2 separate regions of the Homo sapiens genome follow, and region 2 is linked to region 1. The links come from fine-mapping of genetic effects on gene expression. Tissue or cell type: whole blood. Region 1 holds a variant in brackets; the other region holds the start of a gene. All regions are shown on one strand. Distances are from middle to middle.

The links. PIP is the estimated chance that this variant, and not a neighbour inherited with it, causes the effect.
Region 2: it holds the start of POLR3H, and the variant in region 1 is fine-mapped to the expression of POLR3H in whole blood (TOPMed, PIP above 0.99).

The regions. Positions count from the first base shown.
Region 1 is chr22:41,394,961-41,403,061 of GRCh38, forward strand. TEF (TEF transcription factor, PAR bZIP family member) reads left to right here. Exons shown (of 4, transcript NM_003216.4): 4 at 785-4,366. The coding sequence ends at 1,000. Among named protein-coding and RNA genes, the nearest start is that of TEF, 17 kb to the left of the region's middle. RefSeq lists an enhancer at 7,508-7,652 and a cis regulatory region at 7,574-7,587. The variant G/C (reference allele first, on the strand shown) is at 3,834.
Region 2 is chr22:41,539,481-41,547,581 of GRCh38, forward strand. It overlaps POLR3H (RNA polymerase III subunit H), which reads right to left and starts at 4,990. Exons shown (of 6, transcript NM_001018050.4): 1 at 4,511-4,990; 2 at 1,219-1,315. The coding sequence starts at 4,621. RefSeq lists enhancers at 4,351-5,188, 4,511-4,610, 4,621-4,710 and silencers at 4,761-4,890, 5,081-5,180.

The sequences.
Region 1 (8,101 bases):
ATGGTACTCACTGTAGGCCAGGCACTGATTTTTGTTTTGTTTGTTTTTGTTTTGTTTTGTTTTTGAGACAGAGTCTCACTTTGTCACCCAGGCTGGAGTGCAGTGGCGTGATCTCGGCTCACTGCAACTTCCGCCTCCCAGGTTCAACCGATTCTTGTGCCTCACCCTCCTGAGTAGCTGAGATTACAGATGTGCACCACCACGCCGGCTAATTTTTGTATTCTTAGTAGAGATGGGGTTTCATCATATTGGCCAGGCTGGTCTTAAACTCCTCACCTCAAGTGATCCACCTGCCTCAGCCTCCCAAAATGCTGGGATTACAGGTGTGAGCCACCATGCCTGGCCTGTTATTTCTCAGTGTAAAGATAAGGGACCTGTGATATTGAGGGGTTAAAGTACTTGCACAGTTTCACTGCTAGTAATCTTGGAGAGCCAAGATCTGAACTCGGGGATCTAGGCCCTTACCCACAACCAACATGCCTAAGTAAGGCAAGGGTGTGGACAGTGCAATGCTTTGTGCTGGAGCAGCAGGTACCAGGCCTCCAGGAGATGAGTCTCCTTCTCTTCACCATGTAACGTACCAAATAACTTTTGTTTCTCGTCCTGCCCCCGAGGAAAGGGCAGTGCCCTCAATGTGCCCTGGTTTGTGCTGCTCCCTCCCTGGTATCCCTGCTTTAGCTCTGGCCACACCAGATGAGTTAGGGGAATCCAGGTGGTGGGAGTGGAAAAATTGGGTTCTCTCGTGGGGAAAGACGAGAGACTCACAGAGGGCACTTCCCCACAGGATGAAAAGTACTGGACAAGACGCAAGAAGAACAACGTGGCAGCTAAACGGTCACGGGATGCCCGGCGCCTGAAAGAGAATCAGATCACCATCCGGGCAGCCTTCCTGGAGAAGGAGAACACAGCCCTGCGGACGGAGGTGGCCGAGCTACGCAAGGAGGTGGGCAAGTGCAAGACCATCGTGTCCAAGTATGAGACCAAATACGGGCCCTTGTAACCCGTGCCCCCCGCCCGGGCGGGGTACTGCCTGCACCTCAGACCTCTGCCTGGGGGCTCCCTGTAACCCCTCACACGCGTGGAGACTTATGACTCGTCGTGGGCGCATGGCGGCGCACCTGCTGCAGGAGCGGCCACGTCTCAGCTTCATTATACCATGGCCTGCGCACGTGGCGACGTCCCTGAGGGGCCAGTCTCCTCACTGGTGGGGAACGCAAGAGAATCTGCGTAGATGGGTGACTCAGCCTTAGTTTCTATTCTTGGATGTCCCAGTTGAATCAGAAGGGGACCTCTGGAGTACACACCTCTCTCCTGGGCGCTCAGGGTCCCTGGACTCTCCCTCAGTCTCCAGCCTGGGCTGCCGAGGGCTATCTCTGCAGAATGAGTTGTGATCATTGTCACCCTATGTCTTCTCAGGTAGCAGGGCGCGTTTCCACTTAAGGTGTGTCTGTCACGCACCTCATTCTCCCCAGACAGTCTTTGAGTAACATCTGTTCCCATCTTCCTTGGAAGCAGGACACACCAGCTCCTCCGTCAGTGTCTGCATGGGTAGCAGGCTGCAGGAGTGGGGTCTCTGCACAGCCTGGGATGGGGCTTGGGGCTGGGGCCTGCAGCAGAAGTGTGCCCAGCGTTTCTCGGCTCCCGCACCCCTTTTCCCTTATGGCTCTGAGGCCATCGGCTGTCTCTGCATTTCATTGGCTGTGGAGGAGAGACTCCTAGGATGGCTGCTGTCTGAGCCATGAGTGCCAGGGCTGAGAGAGGCCTCTTCATTTCCTCTCCAGGCTACTCAGAGGCCATGTGAAGCTCGTTTGTCCCACTAGACCAGGCCTCTGGGCCTGCTCTTTCTTTCCACCCAATGTCCAGTCTTGGATCATAGATTTAAAAGGAAAACCCCTCTTATCTAGGAGGCTTTAACTTCCTGGACCCCAGGATTCACCTTCCTAGTGGTGTTTAGAAAATGCCTCCACAGCCCCCTTCCACCATGGGCATGAGAGCTGGGGTGTGTTTCTTGAGAAGCTCCCTTTTTTCTTGCTCTGCTCACCGGTGTGGCCTGGGCTGGAGTGCACTCTCCCTGGGGGCAGCTGGGGCCTCGCAATTCTTGCTTCAGGATCTCTCCCATGCGAGCTGCCCGGAGGGTGTCAGCAGGGCAAGACACCTAGTCTAGAGTCACCAAGGTCACAGTGCCACTTTCACGGGATAGCAGGCTCTTGGGACTTTTACACAGGCCTAGGGTCCCCTCAGTCTTGGTCCCAGGAGATGGGGGCCACTCGTGAGGCTGGCCATGCTGTGGCTTCTCACAGCTGTGGTCTCCCCTGCCTCACAACGACTCCTTTCTCTTGTGTGGCGGGACTCGCCCTTTTGCTGTGCTCAGAAGATTCACTGAGGAAACTCATGGAAGCCTCTGCTCATTTGGGTCACTGGGACACCCCTGAGATGGGTGTGTTTATTTGCTCAGGGCGGGCAGCCTATGGTGAAGAGGAGACAGAGGCGATGGGCGTGCTTCGTCCTCCGTAACACTGGCTTTATTTACCGTGGTGGTTCAGAGTCCCAGGCCCTGACCTCTAAAGACTTTTCATAACAGACGTTAAGACCAAGCCGTGGACCTCACCCCAGGGGAATGCCACGGCCCTTTGGGGACCTGCACACCCACCTCTCCGGGGGACTTGACAAGGGGCCCTGAGGCCAAGGGAGGTCACTCCTCCCTCCAGGCCCCTGACTTTTACTTTGTGGTTCTCTAAAAACCATGTACACACTTTCACTCTATTGTAACCACACAGGGCAGGCGCATCCAGCATGTCAGTGTCCTGCCCCGGGCAGCTCTCCCTCCCGGGCACGCTCCCTCTGGCCTGGTGGATCACCAAGAGGGCGGTTCTCATTTTGTTATTAGTGGAAGAGCCTTGAGCTTAAAAGCTCTTCATTTTCTTTGCCGGAAAGTATATGGTTTGTGTTTTTGCAGTTTTATTTTTTTAAGGATGGACACTAAATCTCTGGTGTCCATGTTCCGAGCCCGGTGGCTGGGATGGTGGCTCGATGTGTCTCCTCTTTATCCCGCCCTCTGCCTGTTTGGTGCCCTCCCTTCTTTCCCCCAGGCAGTGGGTATCGGGTTCTTTCCCAAAGTGCTTACTTGGAAAGAGTGTGGCTGCTGGACTCTTTTCGAAATGCCCCTCTGAGTCAGGAGCCTGGTGGGGACAAGATGGAGGATGTCCACAGAGGCTGACCTGTGGGGGAAAAGAAGTGCTCAGGTAAGGTTGTCTCCTCTCCTGTCCTAAAAAAATCCATGCTTGCAGGAGAGGGTTGGTGCCTGCTCAGTTTCTGTCGAGGGAATGGGAGTCTCCTCGGCTCCCTCCTGGGCCCTCTGCTTCTTGGAGGCCGACCGCTGGAGACTGCGGCTCCTGTGCTTGGATCTTTGACATCTGTCAGTCACTGGAGGCTAGAGAAGTTGACTTTACCTTGGCTTTCTGTGGGTTCCCGATGGGCTTGGAAGTGCCGTCTACTTCCTAAGCATCCTGTCTAAAGCTTTGTGGCACCCTCAGTGCAACCTCAGAACAGACAAATCATGAATGAGCTGGAACTTTGCAAGAATATTCATATTATAAATGTCTCATCTGATGGAGGAACGTGTGCATTTAGAGAGAGGGAGAGTTTTCAAGGTTTATGGCAACTTTGTGGAGGACCTGGGTAACTCTTACCCTTGGCCAAAGGAAGAGGTTTTCCTGTCTGGCTTCTGAGGTTGGAGGGGGCACTTAGCAGTGAACCTTAAGTCTGGGTACATGTAACCCTGCTGAGGGGCTGTGCAGGCCGCTCCTACGGTCCTTTGGCCTGAGGCAGGGCGG[G/C]AGGCATGCAAGCCAGTGGGGGAAAACCCCTCTGAAGCTGGGCAGCCCTCTACCTGGGCCCCGGGAGCCGTGCTCCTTGGAACGCAAAGGGCCGAGGAGCATCTGGTTTTCATGGCAAAGCTCTACTCCAGAGCTCCTTTAACATCTGCTAATTAAGTGCAATAAATTTTTCTAGAAAATGGCAAAGATGACTTCCAGGTGGATATTGCTCTCTTACGGTGTTGGGGATGCCAGAACACCACTTGGTTTTATTTTTCTAAGTGCATGTGATGTGATAGAGTGTGTGGGGCTCTGTGTCCTTCCCTGGGAGCTGGCATTCCAGCGGGCCCCTCTCTTTACCTTTGTTGGGGGAAGGAGGCAAGAGAGAAATTCCTTCTTCCCAGCCAGAGAGGGCAGAAGCAGACCGTAGCCCATTGGCCTTATGTGCGTGTGTGCGTGCGAGTGTGTCACTGCTGGTGGGCCGGAGTGATGTGGTGGGAGGGAAGCCGGGAATGTATCCTTTTCAGACAAAATTAAATATTTTGAAATGAGAATGTTGGGATTGTCTTTTCTGTCCTTCTCCCCACCCCCAACCCTGAGTTTCCTCTCTTGAGTGTTGGCCTAGGAGCTGGAGAGTCAAGCTGGAAAACTTTTATCTCATTAGAATCCACCCCAGACACCCCCTTCATCACAGTCCAGACACTCTTAGCATCTGACCCCAACCACTCTGCCTCAGTTTCCTCATCTATCAGATGGAAGTGATTCTCGCCTTGCTTATATTGAGGAGGGACAAATATTAGACCAAAAGCAGTTTGAACAGGTAAAGGTGCTACACAACTAGAAGACAGGGAACTGCTTATGACAAGTGTTCTCGAATAGAGAATGCGTGATGGCAGCTCTGTAAAGAAAAGAAAGGGCTGGGCGCGGTGGCTCACGCCTGTAATCCCAGCACTTTGGGAGGCCAAGGCAGGCAAATCACAAAGTCAGGAGTTCGAGACCAGCCTGACCAATATGGTGAAACCCCATCTCTACTAAAAATACAAAAAATTAGCCGAGCGTGGTGGCGGACACCTGTAATCCCAGCTACTCAGGAGGCTGAGGCATGAGAATCGCTTGAACCTGGGATGCAGAGGTTGCAGTGAGCTGAGACCATGCCACTGCACTCCAGCTTGGGCAGCAGAGCGAGACTCCATCTAAAAAAAAAAAAAAAAAAAGGAAAGGACAGGCACGGTGGCTCACGCCTGTAATCCAAGTGCTTTGGGAGGCCGAGGCAGGCAGATCACTTGAGGTCAGGAGTTTGAGTCCGTTTGAGTCCAGCCTGGCCAACATGGTGAAACCCTGTCTCTACTAAAAATACAAAAATTAGCTGGGCATGGTGGTGCAGGCCTGTAATCCCAGCCACTTGGGAGGCAGAGGCTGGAGAGCTGCTTGAACCTGGGAGGTGGAGGTTGCAATGAGCCAAGGTTGCGCCACTGCACTCCAGCCTGGGCGATAGAGCGACACTTGTCTCAAAAACAAAACAAAACAAAACAAAACAAAAAAAACCGAGAGGACTAAAGAGTTGGATCCTCTTGGTGGGACTCTTGAGGGTTTTCCTTTTCTCCTGTTCTTTGGCTATAAAACATTTATAATTTTTTTTGGGGGGGGGGACAGAGTCTTGCTCTGTCACCAGGCTTGAGTGCAGTGGTGGGATCTCGGCTTACTGCACCTCCGCCTCCCGGGTTCAAGCGATTCTCCACCTCAGCCTCCCAAGTAGCTGGGACTAGAGGCGCATGCTGCTACACCCGGCCAATTTTTTGTATTTTTAGTAGAGACAGGGTTTCACCATGTTGGCCAGGCTGGTCTCGAACTCCTGAGCTCAGGCAATCTGCCCGCCTCGGCCTCCCGAACTCAGGCAATCCGCCTACCTCCGGCCTCCCAAAGTGTTGGGATTACTGGCATGAGCTACCACGCCCAGCCTGCAAATATTTCTTTTATATATATATTTTTATTTTTATTTATTTATTTTTGAGACTATCGCTCAGTCACCCAGGCTGGAGTGCAGTGGTGTGATCTCGGCTCACTGCAAGCTCCACCTCCCGGGTTCACGCCATTCTCCTGCCTCAGCCTCCCCCAAGTAGCTGGGACTACAGGTGCCTGCCACCAAGCCCAGTTAACTTTTTTTTTTTTTGATTTTTTAGTAGAGACGGGGTTTCACCGTATCATCCAGGATGATCTCAATCTCCTGACCTTGTGATCGTCCCACCTCGGCCTCCCAAAGTGCTGGGATTACAGGCGTGAGCCAGCGTGCCCAGCCTGGCCAGGCTGGTCTTGAACTCCTGACCTCAAGTGATCCACCCACCTTGGCCTCCCAAAGTGCTGGGATTACAGGTGTGAGCCACCGCGCCTGGCCCCCTCTGTATTTTCTACTCTGCATGCAAATGCGCTCTCTCAAAGCGGAGATCTGTGCAGCCACGGCAAGCACAGGGGCATGGGCTTGAAACATGTCAAAGCTGTGAAATCTCTGTATGTATGGCAGAGCACTGGCTTTGGACTCCGACGGTCCTAGGATCAAACCCTGCCTCCATCACCAATTTGGGGTATGATCGTGGGCAAGTCACTTCCCTTCTCTGGGCTTCCAGTTTCTCACCTGTAGAATGGAACACCAGCGGCCGGGCGGTGGCTTACGCCTGTAATCCCAGCACTTTGGGAGGCCGAGGCAGGTGGATCATGAAGTCAGGAGTTCGAGACCAGCCTGACCAACATGGAGAAACCCTGTCTACTAAAAATACAAAATTAGCCAGGCATGGTGGCACATGCCTGTAATCCCAGCTACTCAGGAGGCTGAGGCAGGAGAATCACTTGAACCCAGGAGGCAGAGGTTGCGGTGAGCCGAGATAGTGCCATTGCACTCCAGCTTGGGCAACAAGGCGAAACTCCATCTCAAAAAAAAAAAAACAAAAGCAAAAACGAACACCAGCTTCATAAGACAGTTGTCCCACGAAGACACCTGGAGCAGGGCAAACACCACTCAGCAGCTGCCATTATGGTGACAGAGAGGAAGGTACGGACCTACATGGAGACCATCACCTCCAGTCCCAGCAGCTGCTGCCCATCGCGGGTTGTCTACCAGCTGGTGTGGGATGCAGCCAGGGTCAGACCAGCTGTGTGGTCTTGGACAACTTATCCATTTCCCTGAGCTGTTTCTCTCTCTGTCCAACAAGGATGCGCTACACAGGTCACATGTGCGTGCCTGACAGCACATCTCGACCCTTCTCCTTCCCCTCCACCCCAGCTCCTTCAAGGACAAATTCCGAAGCTGGACACATGCCCCCTTCCTTTACTGCACCCTATTACCAGACAGCCCTTCACACACTGCCCCGTGGCTGTGCCAGGCTGGCCCAGCTGGCAGCTCCTGACGTCAGCAGCTAATCCGGGAAAGCTGCCAGCCAGAGATAGGGGTGAGCAGCAAAGGAAATCAGAAACAGGTTTTAAGATGGGTGCCCCAACCCCCCAGCCAGCCCTCAGGGAGCTTTCATCAGCCTCTCACTTAAGCAAATCCTCGCAACCATGCGTCCTGATGCCCGGTCCCCTCAGGATTAAGTAAGTGCTGAGCAGGAGGCTTTTATTTTAAGCTGCAGCTCTGTCATCAGGAGCTAGGCACACAGCAAGCCACTGCCTAGCTGTCCCATAGGTTTCTCCAAACAGAGTAGTGGGCGTCCACTCAGGTCTGGATTTCAGGCTGACTCCAGGAAGTCCAGACTACAGGGAGGTAGAGGGGACGGGGCAAAGGTCAAGGATCAGAGGTAGAGGGGACAGGACAAGGGCCTCAGTGTGTTGCCTCCAGCTGGCCCTCCCTCTTAAGGCACAAGGCCCGGTGCACCATTCCTCACTGTTCTTATGTCTTCCCAGCGTACAGCACGCAGGACGGTGCTATGGTTTGAATGTCTCCCCAGAATATATGGGTTGGAAACTTAATCCCTAATGCAATAGTGTTGGGAGGTGGGTCTTAATGGAAGGTGTTTACATCGTAAGGCCTCCACCCTCACGAATGGATATAAAAGAGCTTGAGGTGGCTGGGTGCGGTGGCTCATGCCTGTCATCCCAGCACTTTGGGAGGCTAAGGCGGGCAGATCACCTGAGGTTGGGAGTTCAAGACCAGCCTGACCAACATGGAGAAAGCCCGTCTCTACTAAAAAGACAAAAATTAGCTGAGCGTGGTGGCGCACGCCTGTAATCCCAGCTGCTTGGGAGGCTGAGGCAGGAGAATTGCTTAAACCCGAGAGGCAGAGGTTGTGGTGAGCCGAGAT
Region 2 (8,101 bases), 140 kb after region 1:
CCTCCCTTGACTGGTGGTCCTGGCTCCTCTCAGGGTGGTCCTCTCTCTACTCCTCCCTCCTTCCAGGATCTGGTGATCACCTTCCATTCCTGGATGCACACCCTTTTGCAATGTGACTGCAGTTTCTCCCACCCAGAGGTGAAGTCTATTTCTCCATCCCCTCACCCTAGCCAACGGGATGGAAGCAGAGGCTTGAGAAGTACTTACGCACTGAACTTTGGAACCTTAAAACCGCCAAGCCCAGCCTGGCCTACTGAAAGATGAGACCATGTGGGGCAGAGATGGGCCAGCCCAGCCCAGGCCCCCAGTAACCAACCAGTCTGCCAACCTTCAGAATGTGAGACCGTCCTAGATTGTCCAGCCCCAGGCCAGCCAGATGAGAGGAAAACCACCCAACTGACCGACAGAATAGGGAGAAACAATCCACGCTGATAAGTCACTGAGTGCTCGTTAGGTGCCAAGGCTCTGTCCTAAGAGCTTTCATGTATTAACTCCTTAATCCTCACAATGGTCTTAGAATATAAAATCTATCCTAAACTGCAGTTGACATCCTGAACTGCAACTGACAGATAAGGAAGCAGAGGCACAGAGCAATGACATATTCAGCCAGGACACACAGCTAGTAAGAAGCAGAGCTCAGCTTTTAATCTTGAGGCCACACTCTTACCTACTGTGTCCTACTATCCAAGTCCCCCACCCCCAGCCAGCCTGCTGATCCCCCTTCCGTCTGCTCTCCACAGGCAGCGGGAAGCCCGAGGAATGGACAAGGTGCAGGGCTCAGTAGCAATGAGACCAAAAGGGCACAGACACAGAGCTATGAAGTCAGAGCTGAAGAGGCCTTGAAAACCAACTAGTCCACATCCCAGGCCTCACAGATGAGGGAACAGAGGCCCAGAGAAGAGAAGTCTGCCGCTGTCACCGGGTCAATTCCTGGCCGATTCAGGATGAGGCCCCACGTCTCCCAGCCTCCAGGACTCCCACCACCCTCTGGCCATCTCTTTGACTTTAGCCTTTTAAAATTTTTTCATATTTTATTTATGTATTTAAAGACAGGGTCTTGCTATGTTGCCCAGGCTGGCCTTGAACTCTGTGGCTCAAGAGATCCTTCCGCCCTCAGCCTTACAGGCACGCACCACTGAACCTGGATTTGGCTTGACCTTTGGCTACAGAAAACTGAGCCCCAAGAAGCCCAATGCCCCAGGGACAGAAGATACCCACCTTTGGTGTGTGATGCGCCATCCCCAGGGAATACATAGGCATCCTCCAGTTTGGTGATATCAAACAGACAAATGCAGAGTCCCACGTTGTACACGACCTGCATGCATACAAACACAGACACACAAGTACACATGGATACAGAGTGACCACAGGCCCAGCTCCCAGGCAATCTGAGCCCCTCACAACCACAAGCAAGCCATGATTATCTCCTTTTTTAGGTGAAAATGAGTTTGTGGAGGGGACCAGGGTAAGGAACCTCAGAAGGATGCAGAGCTCTGGAAGGAGCAGGGCCTCGGGTGACAAAACAGGTCCAGGTTCCAAGGCCAGCTCCACCACCCACTGTGTGACTGCCAAGAGGGTCACTTCACCTCTCTGAGCCTCGGTCTCCCCATCTGCAAATGTGAAATACCAGGCTGCAGAGTTATAAAATAAAGAGAGATAACAGATGTGAAGCCCCTAGCCTTGTACCTGGCTCGTGTATTGGAAACCATCATCATCAAGGATCTTTGTTATTACTAGTGAGGACCAGTGACAGGAATGCTGCCTAAACGTGCACTCTCCGACATCCCAAAGCCAATGCCAGAGCTCACAGTTTAGTGAGCGTCACAGCCACAGCTAAACCCCACTGTGCTCACAACATCTCAGACACACAGACGCAGCCACAGGGACTGCAGCTGGCAGAGGGACACAAGACCTAGGCCCCAAGAATGTGCAGAAATCCCATGCCCTCACCCCACACCACTGTGGTTCAAACGACTGGCTACTCAGTGTCTCCTTATCTGCCACCGTGTCATCACCCCCACTTAGAACCCTTGCAAGAACTGTCCAAGAATTAGCAAGAAGCTCAGAGAACTCAGAGTCGTGGCCAGACCTCACCAAGATAATGCCACAAGATCTGTGCCCTTTGTCAGACCATGGATTTCTGTGTGGGCCCCCTCTCAAACGATTCATCTAATCAAATACTAGAAGACTTGTCCCAACAGGACCTCTACCCCAAAGGGACTATATTCCCTTCTTGGACTTTCCACACCTTCTCTCTCAAGGTCCACACCTCCATCCCCCAACAGACCCTCATCTTCAACCTCACAAAGTAACCAGAAGCCATCCACTTAAAGACTCCATGAGTTCCCTTCACTATCTAGCAACCCCCAAATCAACCTCACCTCTTCTGAAGGGACCTGTCTCATGCGTAAAGCCAGCTAAGCATCCTCTTTCTGGCTCCTTCTCAGCCCATCACCTTCTGATGCTCCACGGATAAAGACCAATACCTCAACTCCGACATCCTACAGGGCTGTGTGGCCTGGCCCCCACCCACCTGTCCAGCCCACCCTCCCCTCTGCCCAAGCCACACCAGCCTCTTCCACACCATGGTGGGTATTTTACCCCTTCTTCTTTTTTTTTTGAAGCGAAGTTTCACTCTTGTCACCCAGGCTGGAAGGCAGTGGTGCGATTTCAGCTCACTGCAACCTCTGCCTCCTGGGTTCAAGTGATTCTTCTCCCTCTGCCTCCCAAGTAGCCGGGATTACAGGTGCCTGCCACCATGCCCAGCTATTTTTTGTATTTTTAGTAGACATGGGGCTTCACCATGTTGGACAGGCTGGTCTCAAACTCCTGACCTTGGGTGATCCACCCGCCTCAGCCTCCCAAAGTGGTGGGATTACAGGTGTGAGCCCCCACGCCCGGCCTGTATTCCTTCTTCACAGGGCCTTTGCACATGCCAGTTCCTGCCTTCAGGGCTCTTCTCTCCACCCAGCCCCCTCCCACCCTAGAAAGGAATCCTCTGGTTGGCTCCACTTCACCATCAGATCTCACCTTCAACCCCACCTCCTCAACAAAGCTGCAGGTCCCCTCATTCCAGGGGACGTTCCTTTGTTCCACAGGTGTGTGAACACCTGTCCCTCATAACATTTACCTCAATTTGTCACCAAACACTCAACTGTGGACCCTTCTCATTCATATCTGCTTTCCCACCACACTATAGCACAGAGCCTTGTCTCTGTTTCATTCATTCAGTCAACAAATGGCCGGGCACGGTGGCTCACACCTGTAATTCCAGCACTTTGGGAGGCTGAGGCAGGCAGATCACCTGAGGTCAGAAGTTTGAGACCAGCCTGGCCAACATGGTGAAACCCCGTCTCTACTAAAAGTACAAAAATTAGCCAGGTGTGGTGGCAGGTGCCTGTAATCCCAGCTACTCAGGAGGCTGAAGCAGAAGAATAGCTTGAACCTGGGAGGTGGAGGTTGCAGTGAGCCAAGATCGCTTCATTGCACCCCAGCCTGGGCGACAAGAGCGGCACTCTTGTCTCACACACACAAACACAAAACAGAAAATTATGGGACATCTACTCCCGCCAGGCTTTGGCTAAATGAGGGGATACTTCAGGGAAGAAGGCAGATAAGGTCCCTGCTCTCAAGGAGAGGGAAAGGAAAAAGTCTAAGAAGGAAAGAGAGTGATGTGACACAGAATACCTGGAAAGGGAGGACTGTCAAAGAAACGGCAGTGGGAAGACCTCTCAGCTGGTACTAAGGCACACAGGCACAGCACAGAGAAGGCGCACAAATATTGGCTGCTGGAATGAAGGGATGAACCTCCTGACAGTTAATTCTGTACTACTAGAACTCTCCATCTTCACGAAAACAATGCATTGACCCGAGGCGATGGCGCACACCTGTAATCCCAGCACTTTGGGAGGCCGAGGCGGGGGGATCAAGAGATCGAGACCATCCTGGCCAAAATGGTGAAACCCCGTCTCTACGAAAAATACAAAAATTAGCTGGGGGTGGTGGCGCGCGCCTGTAGTTGTCCCAGCTACTCGGGAGGCTGGGGCAGGAGAATCGCTTGAACCCGGGAGGCGGAGGTTGCAGTGAGCCGAGATCGCGCCACTGCACTCCAGCCTGGACGAAAGAGCAAGACTCCGTCTCAAAAACAAAAAACAAAACAAAACAAAACAAACAACAACAACAACAAAAACAATGCATGGCTGGAAGGACAGCAATATTTTATCCCCATTTTAAAAATGGAAACTGAGGCCCAGAAGGGGTCAGTAACTTGCCTGCAATTGCAAAGTAATTTAGAATTGTGGAATCTAACACTTCCAGTTACAACTCCCTTTTTCAAGCCCATTTTCTTTTGATCCCCTTCAATATCTCCTTTCACGGTGAAGAAAAGTTCTGAGACATTAAGCTGCTTGCCCACGGCCAGGGCTTGGCATGACCGAGGCCGGGCCTGCGGCCAGTGGGCGGCGCTCGCTCTCCCACGCCAAGGCCTGCCCGCGAGCCGTGGGCCCAGTACCTTGTTGGCCAACTTCTTGTTCAGCTCCTCGGCAATGGAGTCGTTGAGCTTCCTCTCAAACTGCCAAGGGGGGATCCGGACGGTGTCCACCATTTCCACCAGGACGAACATCCCGGCCTGCGCTGGGGGCTCTGGGAACAGGAGGGTCAGTCACGCACCAGGGCCGGGGGCAGGGAGAATCCCCGAGCCCCTTGGTCCCGTCCCAGTCGCTGAGGCCCCCAGGCTGGCGGTGAGGTTGCACGGGGCGGTCTCGGGGGCCCGGTCCGGGCCATGCTCCGCTACTACAACATGAGGAAACTGAGGCCAGAGGGAGGCACTCTCCGTCCACAGCTCCGGGTGCGCGCCCGCGCCGCGAGACCCCGCCACGCCACGCCACTCCACGCCACGCCACTCCACGCCCCGCACCCGCGCCACGTGCCGCCGCTCGTATCACGCACCACGCACCACGCACCGCGCACAGCCGCTCGCGCTTGCGCGACTGCGGGCGAGATTCCGAATCCATCGCTTCCGGAAAACTCACCAATAAGAAACCTCTGTCCACCCCCACCCCGCCGAGGCGGGGCGGGGCTGCCTGTGTGCTCGCGCACAGCGTGGGGCAGAGAGAGGGCGAGGAGAGGGCGGGGCCTCCTCCTTTCACAGGAGCAGAGCGGTTCCCCCGCCCCCGACAGCGCTTTCTGTTGCTAGGCGACCTCCGTGCAATCCCGCCTGATTATCCCTCGCCTGGCCTGTGCTTTACCCGCATTGCTGTCCTCTGCTCGGCAGCCAGAGTGATCCTTTGGAAACGCAAACATATATTACCACATCTAAGTTAAAAAAAAAACCCACCGCAAACATAACATGCTTAGCACCCTTAAGTGTTCCGGAGACAAGGAGAATTAGCAGGAAAGGGGCACTTGGGACTGTTCTGAGATGATGGAAATGTTCTGTATTTTGTTTTCGGTGGTATAACATTGACGTATATAATTGTCCAAACTAATTGAACTCGGCAAGATTTTTGCATTTATTTGTAGACATTATGTTCCAATTGAAAAGTTATAATAAATTGGAACAAAAAACACAACCCATTGAACTTAGAATACTAGATCCAAGCCGGGCGTGGTGGTGTACACCCGTAGTCCCACCTACTCAGAAGCCTGAGACAGCAGCATCGCTTGAGTCCAGGAGTTTGAGGTTGCAGTTTGAGGTTGCATGCTGCACTCTAGCATGGGTGACAGTGACACCTCATGTCTAAACGAAAAAGAAGAAGAAGGAGAGGCGGAAGAAGAAGAAAGAAGAAGGAGAAGAAGAAGAAGAAAGAAGAAAGAAAAGGGAAAGAAGAAAGAAAAGAAGAAAGAAAGAAGAAAAGTCCAAAACCTTTATGGTAGTTCACACGGCCCTGCAAGATCTGACCATACCCCCCTCCTATAGCCCCATCATGCTCTGTCTCGCTGACATTCCAGTCTCATTCATCTTCACGTGATAGCATGGGCTAAGAGAATTTGGTAGCTTACCCAAGATCACGTGTTGACAAGTGGTAGAGGTGGGCCCAGTCTGAACCTCACTACCCTGCCTCTAAAAATTGGTGGGGTGTAGATGTATACTGTAGTGGGTTTTTTTGTTTGTTTGTTTGTTTGAGACGGAGGATCGCTCTGTCGCCCAGGCTGGAGTGCAGTGGCGCGATCTTGGCTCACTGCAAGCTCCGCCTCTCGGGTTCACGCCATTCTCCTGCCTTAGCCTCCCGAGTAGCTGAGACTACAGGCGCCCACCATCACGCCTGGCTAATTTTTCGTATTTTTTTTTAGTAGAGACGAGGTTTCACCGTGTTAGCCAGGATGGTCTCGATCTCCTGACCTCATGATCTGCCCACCTCAGCCTTCCAAAGTGCTGGGATTACAGGTGTGAGCCACCGCGCCCGGGCTTGTAGTGTGTTTTAACCAAAATAACAATTTAGGTACTTACAAAAGATACTTGGGGTAAATGACAGAGGCACTTGGAAATGTATGGTGCCTTAATTTGCTGATTTCACAAGCATAGTGATCTCTCAGTGACACTGGCTGCAGTGATGCTAAATGTGGCCTTCCCTGCATCTATGATTTTATTTTTAGGTGTGCTTCTATAGGATTTGAGGTACTTGAGGACAGCAGCAAATGCTACTTCAGCTCTTTATTCCCACAATCCCCTAACACATTCCTAGGAAGCATTGAGTAAAGGTGTTTAGGGATTACCATTAATTCTTCCTCTCAAATGTTTCCTCTTCATTCCACTCCCACTGCTATTGCTTCGGTTCAGGCCTTTTCTTTTTTTTTTCTTTTGAGACGGAATCTTGCTCTGTCGCCCAGACTGGAGTGCAGTGGCATGATCTCAGCTCAATGCAACCTCCACCTCCTGGGTTCAAGCGATTCTCCTGCCTCAGCTTCCCAAATAGCTGGAATTACAGGTGCCCACCACCACACTTAGCTAACTTTTGTATTTTTAGATAAGATTTCACCATGTTGGCCAGGCTGGTTTCGAACTCCTGACCTCAGGTGATCCCCCCCATCTTGGCCTCTCAAAGTGCTGAGATTACAGGCATGAGCCACCGTGACTAGCCAATATCTGGTCATTTAAAAGTATGTGGCGGGGCCAGGCGTGGTGGTTCACACCTGTAATCCCATCACTTTGGGAGGCCGAGGTGGGTGGATCACAAGGTCAGGAGATTGAGACTATCCTGGCTAACACGGTGAAACTCTGTCTCTACTAAAAATACAAAAAAAAAAAAAAAAAAAAAAAAGTAGCCGGGCGTGGTGGCACGCGCCTGTGGTCCCAGCTACTTGGGAGGCTGAGGCAGAAGAATCACTTGAACCCGGGAGGCAGAGGTTGCAGTGAGCTGAGATCACACCACTGCACTCCAGCCTGGCGACAAAGTGAGACTCCGTCTCAAAAAAAAAAAGTGTGTGGTGGCCAGGCGTGTGGCTCATGCCTGTAATCCCAGCACTTTGGGAGGCCAAGGTGGGCGGATCACCTGAGGTCAGGAGTTCAAGACCAGCCTGACCAACATGGAGAAACCCCGTCTCTACTAAATACAAAATTAGCCGGGCGTGGTGGCGCATGCCTGTAATCCCAGCTACTCAGGAAGGCTGAGGCAGAAGAATCGCTTGAACCCAGGAGGTGGCGGTTCTGGTGAGCAGAGATCGCGCTATTGTACTCCAGCTTCGGCAACAAGAGCAAAACTCCATCTTGAAAAAAAAAGTGTGTAGCACCTCCCTCCTCCCACTCTCTCTCTTGCTCCTCTTTTCCCCATGTGATGTGCCTGCTCCTCCTTTGATTTCCGATATCATGGGAAGCTTCCCGAGGCATCCCTGGAAGCTGAGCCTATGCCAGTACCATGCTTGCTGTAAAGCCTGTGGAACCATGAGCCAACTAAACCTATTTTTTTTTTTTTGAGACGGATTCTTGCTCTGTCGCCCAGGCTGGAGTGCAGTGGCATGATCTCGGCTCACTGCAAGCTCCACCTCCCGGGTTCATGCCATTCTCCTGCCTCAGCCTCCCAAGTAGCTAGGACTACAGGCACCCGCTACCACGCCCAGCTAGTTTTTTGTATTTTTAGTAGAGATGAGGTTTCACCGTGTTAGT